2 separate regions of the Homo sapiens genome follow, and region 2 is linked to region 1. Evidence: fine-mapped expression QTL. A gene starts in region 1. The other region holds a variant in brackets. All regions are shown on one strand. Distances are from middle to middle. Region 1 holds the start of CRISPLD2 (cysteine rich secretory protein LCCL domain containing 2). Region 2 overlaps CRISPLD2 (cysteine rich secretory protein LCCL domain containing 2).

Region 1 (8,000 bases):
AATGGGCCTGGGGTTTCCTTACGAGATGATGAAACGCTCTGGAATTAGTGGTGGTGGCTGCACAATACTTCCAATGTACTAAACGCCACTGAATTGTACACTTCAAAATGGGTTAAATGGTAAATTTTATGTTTATGTGTATTTTTACCACAATACATCTTTTCAGGAAAAAGAAAAACAGAACATGGCCCATCCTATTAACCACCACCCAGATCTACCTGTCCCTTGCCTGTCCCAGAACTCAGCGTGCTCTATTTAAGACTTTACAACGTGCTTTAGGTCCCTGTCCCTGGAAGGTCTGAGCATCTGTTCCACTCAATGAACTGAAGACGAAGTGAAATATGCCCAGATTGAATTTTCCTTTCCTGACAAGCCGTCAGCCCGTTTGAGTGATCCTGGGTTTGCACATCTGGGACTGATCAAAAACCAGTGCGTTTGCAAAAGAAGAAAAAAGAAAAAGAAAGAAAAAGCCTCCTGAGTCTGGCGCAGGCAGACATGCAGACACCTCCCACACACAGCAAATGACGCTGGTGACAGAGGAAAGAAAAGTTCCAGTTCCCACAGGCCAAAGAGGTCAGTGCCCTGCCTCCAAAAACTTTCTGACCTCCAAAGACGTCAGAGGGTCCTGCCTCCAAAAACTTTCAAATGCAACTTACAAAGGGCCACATACTTAATTTGTGGTCTTTTGAGGGATGAAGTGCAGAGGTTTTAAGAGACCTCGCAGTCTTCTTCCCTAGCTCAGGCCTTCCCAGTCAAACCAACTCTCCTCTCCAGGACAGAGGCAGGACTCAGAACCAGCACTGATTTGGGTCCTGGGACGGGGCTCTCAGTACCTGTCAGCAATGTTGAGCCCAAGCCCAGGGTCAGTTGATCCCCTCCCAGCCTCACCCCAACAGGGACCAGGGACCCAGATCCCTGCCAACGTTAAAAAAACTCCCACATGGCACAGAAAGCCTCAACTAGCAGCAAGCTCTGCTGGGACAGTCATGTGGCTGGTCATTAGATGGGCACCTTCCCCCAGAATCTGGGGCAGGGCCCAGCCTGGACGGCAGCTCTACCCCGCCCTGGCTGTGTCATGTTGGGCACACACCTTAATAATTCTGAGCCTCAACTAACTCCTTGTAAAAAGTGCCCAGCTAATAGAGCAGGCAGTGAGCTCATCCGTGGAAACCCTGGGCATGTCTGGTCTGTACTAAGCATCATGTAAATGTCAGCTGCTTGTATTATTACAAATGGCATTATTACTATTCCTACTCTCACATCTTAAGAAACTCTGAAAAAATCAAAATCACCCTCTTGGTTTCTCCTCCCTGGGTACATTGTCCAGTGGTTTTAACTGGAGCCCCTGTAAGACAAAACATCACCTGTGTGAAGGTCAGGTTCATGGGTGGAGTTGGCAGTGGGCAGGGAAGTGTCTTAAAGAAAGCAGGGTCAAGAGTGCAGATAGGACCCACCTGGGGGTGACAGCATTCCATACCAGCTGGGGGATCTTAGGCAAGCACTTCACCTTGCTGAGCCTCAGTTTCCTCAGCTGTGAAGTGGGCATCAAGAGGCCTACTCCCCGGGGTGTTGCAGCGATGACAATACAGGTAAACTGCGTGGCACAGACCGCGTGCCTGCCGCACAGGCAACACAGTCACACACCCACCCCTTCTCCTGAGTGGGAACAGCCAGATCAGGGGCAGAAGCAGAAAATCAGGTGCATACAACCCAAGGAGCCCTGGGACAGCCGACAGTCACAACTCATGGCCTCAGTCTACTGGAAAGGACCACGCCCCGGTCCTGTTCTGCAGGCTCTCCTCACTGTCAGACATCAGACCCTGGATGGGGAAAGCAGGCTCACCCCATTCTACCAGGGCAAGAGGTCCAAAGGCCCAAAGGGGAAACTCACAACCCCACTCTCGGTTGCAAGGCAAGCTAGGCATTTGCACGGGATGCTTCTCTCAGCCAGGGCAGCAACTCACATTTTGGCTGAGAGACGCCCAATTCAAGTTGGACTGCGATGAGCAGGCATCAGCGAAGTCCTCCCTGGCTTGTCCACCAGCCCAGCCTTAGCAAGGGAGGCTCTGGGTCTGCAGCACATGAGGGACTAGCCCTGGCTCTGTCCACGTGGGACGACCGATCTCCCCCACACTCCAGAGTGAGCCCTCCGCTTCCAGGGTAACTCTCCCCACGCAGGAGTTATGCAGGTGCCCGCTCTGGCTAAAGAAACCCAGAAACGTGTTCCCCCAGACTGCAGAACCCTGACATGGCCCCAAGTCTCTACACATCCATTTGAAGCTCTGGAGACAGACAGAGCTGGGTTCCAGCCCTGGCTCTGCCCGGACAACTTACTTCACCTCTCTGACCCTCAGCATCTTCATCTGAAATGTGGGAAGAAGGCTACCTTGCAAATGAAATCACAGAGGGGCGTGGCCCTCTAAACTGCAGCTGAATGCACATGCCACTAGATCACCCTGGTCCTCCAGACATGAGTAGGACACATTCTAATGCCTGCCATATCCATGCCATCAGCTTTCCAGTTATTGACACCCACTACGAACACAGGAATGCAACAAATGCTAGTGAACTGCACGAGGAAGGCAAGAGAGTAAACAGCCTCTAAGGAGCAGGATTCTGCGCTCAGATCGGCGTTGAATCCTGGGTCCTTGGAGTCCTGGCTGCGAGGTCCTGGACAAATGAGTTGTCCTCGCTGAGCCTCAGTTTCTCCATCTGCAAAAGGGCATGTCGCAAAGCTGTGTTCCGCTATGCAAGCAGAGCACTCGGTGTGGTGCCAGCACACAGTCAGCCCTGCGAGGTGGCATCTGTCCTAGTTATTCCAGCTTCTCGGGGGGGTAACAGTTTGCAAAAGGGAGAAGCATGGAAATCACACTTACCTCCGCAGGGCTCCAATCACCAGCTCGCTGGCGTCTCCCGCGTCCAGCAGACGCGGTAGCAGCGGCGACAGCGCGGGCACAGCAGGCACAGCGGGCACAGCGAGCAGACAGCTCAATAGGAGCAGCCGGAGACGCCCTGGGATGCGAGTGGGTGCCGGGGCTCAGCGTACCGCCTCTTGTAGGCTCCCCGGAGCCCGGAGGCCACGCCCCCAGATCGCTGGCGGCGCTGGTAGGACCGAGCATCACCGGCCCCGCCCCCGGCCCCGCCCCGCAGGCTCAGCGGGCTGAAGGAGGCGGGGGGCAGCTGAGGCGCGGGCGCCGGGTGGGCGAGGAAGGCGGGGCCGCTGGCCTCCAGGGCCGGCTAGGGACAAGGAGACGCTCAGCTCCCTCGCCACTGGCCACACAAGCATAGTTTTCATTGAGCGCTTACTATGCGCCTGGCGCGGTGCCAAGCGCTTCCCACAAGGGGCTTGCAAATTTACCAAACCCCAGCTCTCTGCAGCTCAACTGGAAAATAGGAATAAGGAGGCGACCTCCCAGGATTTTAGCAAATGAAATCCGCAAGGGCTGGGCGCTGTGAACTGTGGCGCGGTGCAGAGTACACAGTTACTGAGGTGACTCCCACCCTCTACACGTGCTCAGAAAACTTAGGCCCCCTCTTCCCAATTTGCAGACGAAGAAAGGGAGACTTGTTTCCGGATGGGGCCGCTAGCGCGGGGATCCAGGCTCCGCACTTTACCTTCAACGACCCTAGGACGCGTTCCCAGGAATCCAGGGAGGTGGAAATCACCTCATTTCACAGATCCAGTAGCTGAGGCTTGGAGAAGAGCGTGCCCCAAGTCCCGTAGCTAGGAGCAGTGCAGCATGTTCATATCTCTTTTGCCCGGAGGCATTTAGCATTTTTAACCTGTGCAGGTACATACGGAAATCAATTTAGAGCCAGACGAAATCACCTTTGAAACAGGTAAATCCACGTTCCTTAAGAGCTAAGGGACTGCCCCGTGCTCCCGCCTCAGTCACAAAATGTGGACGGGTATGCAGGCACTGCGCGGTAAGGTGCTGGGGCCCAAGGGCAGGAGGGGGCCTGTCCGCACTGCTCATCTCCGCACCAAGACACCGGAATTAGCTCCTCCAGCATTAACTCATTCCCCAAATACCCATCGAGTCGCTCTGTGCCGGGCCCTGTGCTATACAGCAGGCACAAACAAGACACCTCCGGGATCTCAGAGTCTGGGGCCCCCACGAGCTAGGGCACGTGGGAGAAACAAGGATGGGGAATGGGTGGAACAAGGACTATGGAAGGCTGCCTGCGTGACGTGGACTCAAACAGGGAAGGCTTGCCTAAGATTTTGGTGCGGCTCAAATGCAGATACAGAATAATGCAGACTGGCCGGGCGCGGTGGCTCACACCTGTAATCCCAGCACTGTGGGAGTTTGAGGCGGGCGGATCACCTGAGATCAGGAGTTCGAAACCATCCCGGCCAACATGGTGACACTGTCTCTACTAAAAATACAAAAATTAGCCGGGCATGGTGGTGCATGCCTGTAGTCCCAGCTACTTGGGAGGCTGAGGCAGGAGAATCGCTCGAACCTGAGAGGCAGAGGTTGCAGTGAGCTGAGATGGCGCCATTGCACTCTAGCCTAGGAGACAAGAACAAAACTCCATCTCAAAAAGATAATAATAATGCAGATGTTTTCTGTTATCTTTTTTTCCTCTTTTTGTTTTACTTTTCTCAGTCTTTGAAGCATCATTCTTCAGAGGCACTCAACTGGCATGCAGTCATCCAATAATTAAGCACCTACTATGTGCTGGGCTCTGTTTCAAGCACTGGAGGGCTCAGTAGTGAATAAGACTGTTCCAGAACAACAGTCCTTGGATTGACAAAAGACAAATCCAAGGGGAGAAGAGATCTGTGTTAGCAGATGCCTTTGGAGGCCTGGCACGATGGCTCAGGCCTGTAATCCCAGCACTTTGGGAGGCCCAGGCAGGTGGCTTGAGTTCAGGACCAGCCTGCAACATGATGAAATCCAGTTGCTACAAAAAGTAGCCAGCATGGTGGCATATGCCTGTGGTTCCAGCCACTCAGGAGGCTGAGGTGGGAGGATTGCCTGAGCCTGGGAGGTGGAGGTTGCAGTGAGCTGAAATCGAGCCACTGCATCCCAGCCTGGGTGACAGAGCAAGACCCTATTTCAAAACAAAACCAACCAACCAAACAAACAAACAACAACAAAACAGATGCCTCTGAGTACCTGACCCCAAAGCATTATACTGCCAAATCCTGCCACCCCCAACAACCCTCCAGGCTGGTCCTGTTATTAGCCTCATTTTTTCAATGATGGAACTGAGCACAGAGAGTGTAAGTCACTTCCCTGAGGCCACACAGCCTCTGAATAGAAGAGCCAGGATTTGAATTCACACTCTCACCCACGTGGCTGCCATTGCCTGTGACCATGAAACCTTGGGTGCAGGGGAATGGAATGAACTGGGTCCCTACTCCATCCCCACTCCAGCAAAGAGGAAGGAAAGCTACACGGAATCAGCCTCTACATAGGCCCAGCAGGTGGAACGGGGGTTGGCAGTTGTCAATAGTGAAATGTTTGCCACTTTGCTAATCCAACCCTCATCTCCTTACAGATCCTTTGTATGGCAACCCTGTAGGCTCCTCACCGGCCCAAGTTGGCTTTGGGGAGACCCAGCCCAGCCCAGACGCTCCAAGGACCCCATTGGCAGAGCTGCAACCAGAGACCACTGCTCTGCAAGCCACGATTGCTGTCCGGGCAGTCTCACCCACGGGGCAGACTGAATCCTTAGCTTGCTGGTTTGTGTCATCATCCGGCATCAGGCTCAGTTCAAATCCCAGCTCCTCCACTTCCAAGTTGTTGGCCTTGAGCAAGTCACTTAATGTCGCTGCGTTCCATGCCCCATCTGTGAAATGAATGTGGTAATAATGGCATCTCTGTCTCTCTCTGTGGGCACAAATGGTTAATAGATGGGAAGTAATACGTGGCCTGACACACAGAAAGTGTTAGTTAATACCGTTATTATTAGAGCCAGTAAAGCAAAGAGAGAGAGAGGAGTTTAGTGGTGATCAACTTTTCCATCATGTTGCAATCTCAGAATCTAATTTCCAAAAAATAACATTTGAATTTGAAAAAAAAAAAATGGTGTTTCATGGGCAAGGGGGACCCCTGGGAAGTCCCAGATGGGAGAGCACCAACTTGTACCAAGGAAAGGGGCAAGATGGCCAGTCCCGTCCCAAGTGCCCCCTGGGAAGGGACTGGTCACTGATACCCTTGGACATCCCAGGAAAGGCTCCTATTTGCTACCCAGGCAGGGAGTTAAGTCATGGACAGTTTGAGACAAAGGAAAAAAGTCATCCTTCTGGTCACAATGAAGCCCAACCTGGAAAAACGAACAGGAAAGCCTGGTGGGGCCACCCTGGAGAGCCCAGCCCTCTGCCCACTCTCTCTTGGGACCAAGATGGGCCGACAGAAGGACCGCATGCATGTCTGCAGAACGGTGGCTGGGGCCGGCGGTCATAAATGTTTAATTACGTGATGTAAAGATCAAGGTCGTTCTTTCCTCTCGATGTGATTGCTGTAGGGCTCCTGTCCTCACACCAATTTCTTATTCATCATTTATTTTTATTGGAGGCTCTATGAACTGGACATCAAGAGCAAAGGCCGGGGAGTCCCAGCTTTTCATTTGTTCCTGCCACACCCATTCAGCAGCTGCAGAATGTCACCAGCCCTCAATTTGGCATCAAAGACCACTAACAAGCCTGGGCAACATGGCAAAACCCCGTCTCTACAAAAAATAGAAAAATCAGCCAGGCATGGTGGCGCGTGCCTGTCGTCCCAGCTACTCGGCAGGCTGAGGTGGGAGGACGGCTTGAGCTCAGGAGGTCAAGGCTGCAGTGAGCTGTGATTGCACCACTGCACTCTGTACTCCAGCCTGGGCAACAAAGCCAGACCCTGTCTCACAGGAAAAACAAAACAAACAAACAAACAAAAACCCACTAACAATTTGAGGCGAGGAGACATAGGGGTGCCATTTTGTGATGTGTGATGTGGTGCCATTTTTCTAACTCTTTTCCAGAAGACTTGGAAAAATGGTGCCACCTCTGTATTAACAGGTGCCAATCATGATCTTCCAAGGCTCTCCATGGGACCCACTTGTCTGCCTTGTTGGAGAGGAGGGGGCAAGGGTGACACCTTGTACATCTTACACCGGCAGGCCACTCTCTGGGGGCAGTGGAGACCCTACAGTGGGGAGCTCTGGGGGCGAGGTCTTAATCAATTGGAGTTGCAAGTAACAGAAATCCACTCAAGTTAGCTGAAGCAGAGAAGGGAACTGCTTGGGAGGATACTGAGTTATTTGGGAACCCAAGGCAAGTAAGACTCTCAGACAACTAGAGTGAATCCTGGAAAGGCACCAGGCCCTCTGGCAGTGCTTTCCGTCTATTTCCTCCTTCTCTGGACATGATTCCCGTCTCCCTCTGCAGCCAGGCCTCGCCTATTCCCTGTGGACATGGCCATCCCGTCAGCTTGGGGGGTCACCTCTCCTCTGTCCCAGAGCCCAGCTCAGGCTGTGCCTCACCATCTCCCACTTCTACTTCCTAGAGGGAGAATCGAATTGTCTGTTGGGAGCAGACGTCCACCTGCAGCTCAACTGAGTGACACCAAGGGAAGTTATCGGGCTGCACAAGCATGATGAAATAGTGCTGTGGGCTGGTGGGGTTGATCACAGCAGAGTCTGTGCAGTGTCTGTAGACACATCCAGAAAAAAGCCCCAAATTTAGTGGGACAACAGCTTTGGGTAAATAATCTACATCTAGGACTGAAGCCGACTGTCCTCACAGATCCCAGCCATCTCTGTGAAGGCCAACCTGACTTCCAACAGCCACACCTGTGTCTTTGCTGGAGGGCTGTCCCTGAGCTATCAGAACCCACACAGCACATGAGCATGGTGGCCCATGAGTGCCTAGGATTTAATATCCCCTGGGACAATGGCTAATAACAGCAAATGGGGATGGGGATATAAATACCCCAGATTTCTCGTCCTTGGCTGGGATGATTCAGAGCTGTTTCCCGGAGTTTTCCAGAGGGATTTTCCAATTGGCC
Region 2 (8,000 bases), 88 kb before region 1:
TTGTATTTGTAGTAGAGATGGGGTTTCACCATATTGGCCAGGCTGGTCTCGAACGCCTGACCTCAAGCAATTCACCCACCTCGGCCTCCCAAAGTGCTGAGATTACAGACACGAGCCACTGTGCCCGGCCCACAGGGCTTTGAAATGATTCCAGACACCTCCACAGGTTGCTACGTGGGTGACGCGTTTTGCTGCGCTAAGAACTTGGTGTGCCCCTTCTTCCCTGGAGAATGTGGCCTCACCCCTTATCGGACCCCGTCTGCGAGCTCCTGACCCTCACGACTGGACTTCCATACACATGCAAACCTGCCAGTGGGACGGACCCTTTGGGAGCTCTGGCTGTGGCCGGCTGCACCCTCGGCATCTTCTCCCAAAGCTGGGAGCTCCAGCTGTGACAGGTCACCCCGCCAGCCTTGGAGCTACTCTCAGAAGCCTCTGGCCAGCGCTGGAACTGCCTTCTAGGGACCTTACAGCGCTTCCAAGAACGGCTGGTAGAAGGTGCACCTCAAACTGAGGCCTGCTTCCATCCTAAGTGAGCAAGTAGGCCTTGATCATTCTGGAACTGACCCACTGTGGGGTTAATGGGCTTCGTCTGTCGAGTGTATTCTCTGTGAGGTTTGGTCTCATTCTCTCCCTGTTTAAGCACTGGGAACCTAAGGAAAAAACATCTTTGTGTAGCAATAAACTGTGTGATTTGTGAAATCGTACTTTGATCATTTCCTTATTGTAACCACACAAAACGATCCCTAACCCCCAATGTATTTCTTTCGTGTGTGTGTGTGTGTGTGTGTGTGTGTGTGTCTCGCTCTGTCACTCAGGCTGGAGTGCAGTGGTGTCATCTTGGCTCTCTGCAACCTCTGCCTCCCAGGGTCAAGCAATTCTCCTGCCTCAGCCTCCCAAGTAGCTGGGACTACATGCATGCGCCACCATGCCCGGCAAATTTTTGTATTTTTTTTGTAGAGATAAGGTTTCCCCATGTTGCCCAGACTGCTCTTGAACTCTTGGACTCAAGTGATCCTCCTGCCTCAGCTTCCCAAAGTGCTGGGATTACAGGCATGAGCCAGCCTGTGTATTTCAAGGTAGGGCCTTTAAGGAGGTAATTCAGGTTAAATGGGTCCTAAGGGTGGGGCCCAGACCCAATATGACCGGTGTCCTTATAAGAGAGAGAGAGAGACACCAGGAGTGTACATGCCCAGAGGAAAGGCCATGTGAGGACACGGCCAGGGGCAGCCACCTGCAAACCAAAGAGAGGCCGCAGAGGAAACCAACGCTGCTGGCACCCTGATCTTAGACTTCCAGCCTCCAGAACTGTGAGGAAGATATCTCTGTGGGTTAAGTCACCCAGTCTATGGTATTTTGTTAGGGCAGCCGGAGCTTAGACAGAATGGCCTTGAGCCCACCACCACTCAGAGTGTGATCTGGGGACTGGCAGCATTCGCATCACCAGGATCTTGGGAGAAATTCACAGTCCCTGGCCCCAACCCAGCCTTGCTGAGCCCGAAATTGCATTTTGGCAAGCTCCTCCCTCCTTCCCGCGGATGGGGTGGAGGTCTCCACCAGGCCCTGGCTGTCAGCATCTCTGTGTATATGAGACATCCTAGCAGAAGCAGCCAACACAAAACAGTCCAGAGCCTGAAAGATGGTTTTCAATGTTTTATTTCACAAATTGTTCAGATTTGTTCATAAAAGATATGTTACAGGAACATTTTAGAAATCAAACCAGTTCTACTGAAACAATTGCAACAACGTGGCCCCTGTTCATGCAAAGCACAAAAAACATTTACAATAAAACTTTGTACACAGGAAGTAGCAAAATACATCATTTTTCATAGAAAAAAGCACACACATAAACTGCGGGCTGAGTGAGCCTACAGACAATATGAGAAACCAGCACACGCTTTGGAATACGGTAGGGCAAAACTCCTAAGGAAGCCGAAAATGTTCATCCTGTGGGCAGGAGAGCCAGGAACGCCGTTGGCTTGGTACAAGATCTTTTTAAACACAGGGTAAGTGTTGGTAGCACGAGGGGCCTCTATTCCACACACAGGAGAGGTGGTGCTAGGGACAGGGCTTATCATTTATAGTCTTGTTTCCATTTTCTGAAGACAAATATTCCAGTTTCAAAATGTTTGTGGGGATGATAAAGACAGCCAGGTCCATGGCCGGGCGCAGTGGCTCATGCCTGTAATCCCAGCACTTCGGGAGGCCAAGGTGGGTGGATCACCTGAGGTAAGGAGTTCGAGACCAGCCTGGCCAACATAATGAAACCCCATCTCTACTAAAAATACAAAAATTAGCCGGGCATGGTAGCTCACGCCTGTAGTCCCAGGTACTTGGGAGGCTGATGCATGAGAATTGCTTGAACCCGGGAGGCGGCAGTTGCAATGAGCAGAGATCACGCCACTGCACTCTACCTTGGGCAACAGAGTGAAACTTGGTCTCGGGAAAAAAAAAAAAAAAAAAAAAAAGACAGCCAGGTCCTGCTCTGGGCAAGGACTTTCTATCCTGCTAGGAAGGCCCAGTGAAGGAGGCATTAAGGAACCCGGGGACTTTATTTTTAAATGATGGGGTCAACTCACACTGGAAGTTTCAAGTCTCCCTTGAGTGGGATGCTTTGGAAGCGAGCCCACTGGGATCGTCCTGGACCCTTCACTAATTCTGCAAACCCCACAGGGCGATCTAATTTATCTTGCAGACACAGACACAGCCACAAAAGTCCAGCAGCAGAGCACCCAGCACCCAGAAGTTTCCCAGATGTTTGGTGGTAACTGGACTCACGACCTGACAGGCTGACCGAATTCTTCCTCTCCGACATTTGGGGCTGAGGAGTCAGTACCTATGAATTACGACTAGACTACAATGCACAAAGCACGTAGTCCTGTGAATTTTAGCTCAGTCAAGCTAAGAGTTGAACTGCTTTTTACCAACTCCTTAAAGGGGTGGGTTTTTGTTTTGTTTTAAACCTATTTACCTTCAGATTCTGCATTTATTAGAAAGGCAATCAAAGAAAGAAGGCATCACCTAGGTGCCCAGGTAGAATTTCTTGTCCAGTCTACAGTATCTTAGTTTTTGACTTTCTGCTAGTTCTTTCACCTAAGAAATATTTTGAATCAAATTTGAAACTAGCATTCACCAAAGTGATCTATTGGCTGGCCCGGTGGTAGAGAGTGGAATTTTCACCTTCTGCAAAAAAATGCTATTTACAAAAGGGTACTTCATTTCACTGTGGGCTTTTGGTCTGGGCTCATGAAGCACTTTTATAGAGTGATGGCAGCCAGGGTGTACTACACTCCTTGGCGCCTCGGGAACGTTTGGCAAGAGTCGTTTCACGAAAACAGGAAAAGAGATCCTTCTAGTGTATTCCCATCTCTCGCTGTCATGAGGCCACAGACGGTTTCATAACCACAAACTGAGCTGCTAACCTCGGTGAGGAATGTACCAAAGACTCCATTCCTCCCACGGCTGAAAAAATAGGTCATCGGGTGCGTGGGGAATCTGCACATTTAATTGTCATTTTTTAAAAGCAGCAAAGAGCAGGCCTTCTTTGGTTGTTCTCAGACATCTCGTCTCAGTGGAACCTTACGAGACCAGGAGTTAAGACTTGGGCTTCAAACAGGTTCGCTTGCAAAGAAAAGTCCTGGGTGTGAACCAGGACACGTAAACCAGTCCGAGGCAGGGTGGGAGCCACAA[C/T]GGGTAGGGGGTAAAGAAAGGGTCCCGATCCTTAGTCCTCAATGGGACCAAAGGTCACGGCAGAAAACAGGTGGGCCATGAAGACGAAGGGCCTGACAAAGACAAGATACATCTCTGAAGTGACTGCTGAACTCTACATAAACCAGCACTGCTGTGTATAGAGCCATCCTGAATGCGGCCATTGAAGGGGGCCTGTGGCGGGCCGCCAGCAAGGACACGTGCCAGGGCGGAGCCGGGGTCTCTCATACCCGCAGCCCTCTTACTCTAGCCCATTTGTCTGTCTGACCAGCAAACATTAAAACCATTTTCCTCTATTGGTAGGGACGGACTGTGTTTTTTATTTTTAAATAACTACCTTCTACTTCATTCCTGAAACTCATTGGCGCTTGCTCAAAAGGCCTCTTCCGACGCCGTGAATGCTTCACAATTGTGAGCTTCAAATGGTTTGTTCTTTTGGCAGGGAGGTTGAAATCAACTTCCTCCACCAACAGAAGAACACATAGCAAGGAACATTTTGGGCAACTGTCCCCTTTAAGAGACAGCTCAGATCTCTAAAGGAGAGAGGACGTCCAGATGGAGACCCCCAGGCCCCAGCAGGATCAGGCACCAGGGAGTCCGGCTGAGCACCTTGGGATGCTGTTGCTTCAGTGAGGGGATGAGATGTCACCTCACCCACAGGCCACAAAGTGATGGACACTGAACATCAGTCAAAGGAAGTTTCCTGACTCTCCATATACCCCGCAATGACAAAATAAAAATAAAAGCAAAACCCCGAAGCCCTCCTGAAGACGCCCCTTCTCCCCTGGTGCTGGAAATTCACTGCCTGACAGCAAAGATCCGGAAGGCCTTTCCATCCCGAGGAGTCCCCAGGCTGAAAAAAAGAAGAAAGAGGGCCCGTTACTGAGAGATCTGGAGGGCCTCCTGCAGGGACTCTGGGTGGGCAGGGAGACCTGGGTGCCTCCTGCTTGCTCCCGTAGTGGAAGAGCCATGGCCAAGGGACACTTCCTTGAAGCCGCCAGACACAGAGCCTGCCTTGAGTTGAGAACAGGTGGCAAATCCCATTTTCTCTGCACATGAGCATCCATCTGATTCTAGGTCAAGGCTGTTAAGTTATTTCCTTTTAACTCAGGGATCTGCTGGACCCAGTCTGTCTGGATTGGACTCACCCTCCGAGAATTCTGCTTGGTTTCACTACCACCTGTCAACCCGAACAGTGGTGTCTTGGGAGAGATGAACAGGTGCTATCTCAGCACTACTGCATATGCCAGGTGCTTCACCGCCTTCCACCTTCCTCCTGAGGGAGCTGTTATCGCTCGTTCACAGGGGAGGAAACGGAGACACCAGGAAATAAAGAGATTTACCCAGGGTCCCATGGCTAGTAAAAACTGCCCTCTCACAAGAGGAGTTAAATCCTTCAGCTAATCAAAGATGGTTTTTAAAAAAGAGCTTTAGGCCAGGCGCGGTGGCTCATGCCTGTAACCTCAGCACTTTGGGAGTGAGGCGGGTGGACCACCTGAGGTCAGGAGTTCGAGACCAGCCTGGCCAACATGGTGAAACCCCATCTCTACGAAAAATACAAAAATTAGCCGGATGTGGTGGCAGGCGCCTGTAATCCCAGCTACTCGGGAGGCTGAGGCAGAAGAATCACTTGAACCTGGGAGGCGGAGGATGCAGTGAGCCAAGATCAAGGCATTGCACTCCAGCCTGGGGGACAAGAGTAAGACTTTGTCTCCAAAAAAAAAAAAAAAAAAGAGCTTTATTGGTCAGGCACGGTGGCTCACACCTCACACCTGGAATCCCAGCACTTTGGGAGGCCAAGGCAGGTGGATCACTTGAGGTCTGGAATTCGAGACCAGTCTGGCCAACATGGTGAAACCCTGCCTCTACAAACAATTAGCCAGGCATGATGGTGTGCACCTGTAATCCCAGCTAGTTGAAGGTTGAGGCAGGAGAATCACTTGAACGTGGGAGGTGGAGTGTGCAGTGAGCCAAGATTCTGCCACTGCACTCCAGCCTGGGCAAGAGAGTGAGACTCTGTTTCAAAAAACAAAAAAAAAACCAAACCAACTTTATTAAGTTTAACATACCGTATAAACTCAACCTTTCTAAGTGTACAATTCAATGGTTTTTAGAGATTTTATAGAGTTGTGCAGTCATCTCCACAATCCAGTGTTAGACAATTTTTAAAAATTGTTTTAGACACAAGGTCTGTCACCAAGGCCAGAGTGCAGTGGCATGATCGTGGCTTACTTCAGCCTTGACCTCCTGAGTGCAAGCGATCCTCCCTCCTCAGCCTCCTGAGCAGCATGTCACCAAGCCTGATTGATATATTTTATTTTTTGTACAGATGGAGTCTCACTATGTTGCCCAGGCTGGTCTCAAACTCCTGGGCCCAAGTGATCCTCCTGCCTCAGCCTCCCAAAGTGCTGGGATTATGGGTGTGAGCCACCGTGCCTGGCCTAATGGTGTCTTTTAAGGCATAAAAGTTTTAAACTTTGATAGAATACAATTTATCAATTTGTTTTCATTTATAGATTGTGCTTTTGGCGTCATATCTAGCAAACCATCCAAGGTCATGAAGGATTTATACTTGTTTTCTCAGACATCTGTAATTTTTAGCTCTTACATTTCAGCCTTGGATCCATTTTGAGTTAATTTTTATATATAGTGTGAGGCAAAGGTCCAACATCACAGTTTTACTTGTAAATATCTAATTGCCCTTGCATCATTTGTTGAGAAATTATTCTCTGCCCACTGAATGGTCCTGGCACCGATGTCAAAATCAATTGACTGGAAGTGTGATGATTTATTTTATGGACTTCCAATCATTTTTTTTTTTAATTTTTTTTTTAAATTTTTTTTTTTACCTTTTTTTGAGACCGAGTCTCGCTCTGTTGCCCAGGCTGGAGTACAGTGGTGCAATCTTGGCTCACTGCAACCTCTGCTTCCCAGGTTCAAGTGATTCTCTGGCCTCAGCCTCCCAAGTAGCTGGGATTACAGGTGCACACCACCACGCGGGGCTAATTTTTGTATTTTTAGCAGAGATGGGGTTTTGCCATGTTGGCCAGGCTGCTCTGGAACTCCTGACTTCGTGATCCTCCCCTCCTTGGCCTCCCAAAGTGCTGGGATTTCAGGCGTAAGCCACCGTACCAGGCCCAATCACGTTCTCTTAATCTCTGTGTCTGTCCTGATGTCAGCACCACCATCTTGATCACTGTCGCTGTATAGGATGTTTCAGAATTGGGAAGCCTAAGTGCCCCCTCCCGCTTTGCTCCTCTTGCTGTGGGCACAGCCTTCTAGAACACCAGGGACGCCTGGGAGCCTACCAAGGGCCACCACGGCTGTCTCATTCTCTAGATCCTCCCTGATTTTCTGCCCCAGATGATAACTGCACCTTTGGACCAACTGGCCTTCCTGTGTCTTGGCCACCAGGTTTGATACTGTTCCTGACAATGGCCAGAGGTGTGTGGTTTTCCTCGCTCTGCTTCAAATCAAGAAAGCCGCTGGATGGCACAGCCCCACCCCAGTAGAACTTCCAGCCACAGGAGCTGGTGGGGTGAACAGGAGCGGTCCCAGGCTCAGACACCACAGATCCCTCTGTTCTTATCTGAGGTCCACACTTTTTTGAACAAACACCTCCCTGTTCGTTGTATGACTCTGTGGTGTATTTCTGGAGTCCTGAAACAGCTGTTTTTGAACACTGCTTTTGGGAATAAGATTTCCCATGCATCCTGCTTTGGCATTCTGCAAATCTCACCTCTGGAGCATGTCTTCCAGACGCGAGTCTCCATCCCTACACTAACGTTTAGTAACTGTGTGACAAAGTCACTAAGTCTCTTTGGGCTTTTTTTTTTTTTTTTAAATTTTAAGACAGAGTCTCGCCCTGTTGCCCAGGCTGGAGTGCAACGGTGTGATCTCGGCTCATTGCAACCGCCGCCTCCCAGGTTCAAGCGATTCTCCTGCCTCAGCCTCTCAACTAGCTGGAATTACAGGCATGCGCCACCACACCCAGCTAATTTTTGTATTTTTTGTAGAGATGGGGTGTCACCATATTGGCCAGGCTGGTCTCTTGGCCGGGCTGGTCTCAAACGCCTGAGCTCATGATCCGCCTGCCTCGGCCTCCCAAAGTGCTGGGATTACAGGCTTCTAAGGATACTTTCCGGAATGTTCTGTGACAGTGCCGATGTTGGGGGTACCTGGGTTCTTGGGGGAGGTCCAGGAAGGGGCCAGGCTGGAGAGGAGACCCGGAAGGTGGGAGGAGGGGAGCATTAAATTGACGGGAGGCCATTGTTTTGGACTGGGCTAGGCCC

What was found. PIP is the estimated chance that this variant, and not a neighbour inherited with it, causes the effect.
Region 2: its variant is fine-mapped to the expression of CRISPLD2 in whole blood (INTERVAL, PIP 0.98).

The regions. Positions count from the first base shown.
Region 1 is chr16:84,815,010-84,823,009 of GRCh38, reverse strand. It overlaps CRISPLD2 (cysteine rich secretory protein LCCL domain containing 2), which reads right to left and starts at 3,025. Exons shown (of 15, transcript NM_031476.4): 1 at 2,877-3,025. RefSeq lists a silencer at 3,063-3,252.
Region 2 is chr16:84,903,149-84,911,148 of GRCh38, reverse strand. CRISPLD2 (cysteine rich secretory protein LCCL domain containing 2) reads right to left here. Exons shown (of 15, transcript NM_031476.4): 15 at 1,641-4,561. The coding sequence ends at 4,507. Among named protein-coding and RNA genes, the nearest start is that of LINC02176, 21 kb to the left of the region's middle. RefSeq lists a silencer at 879-994. The variant C/T (reference allele first, on the strand shown) is at 3,691.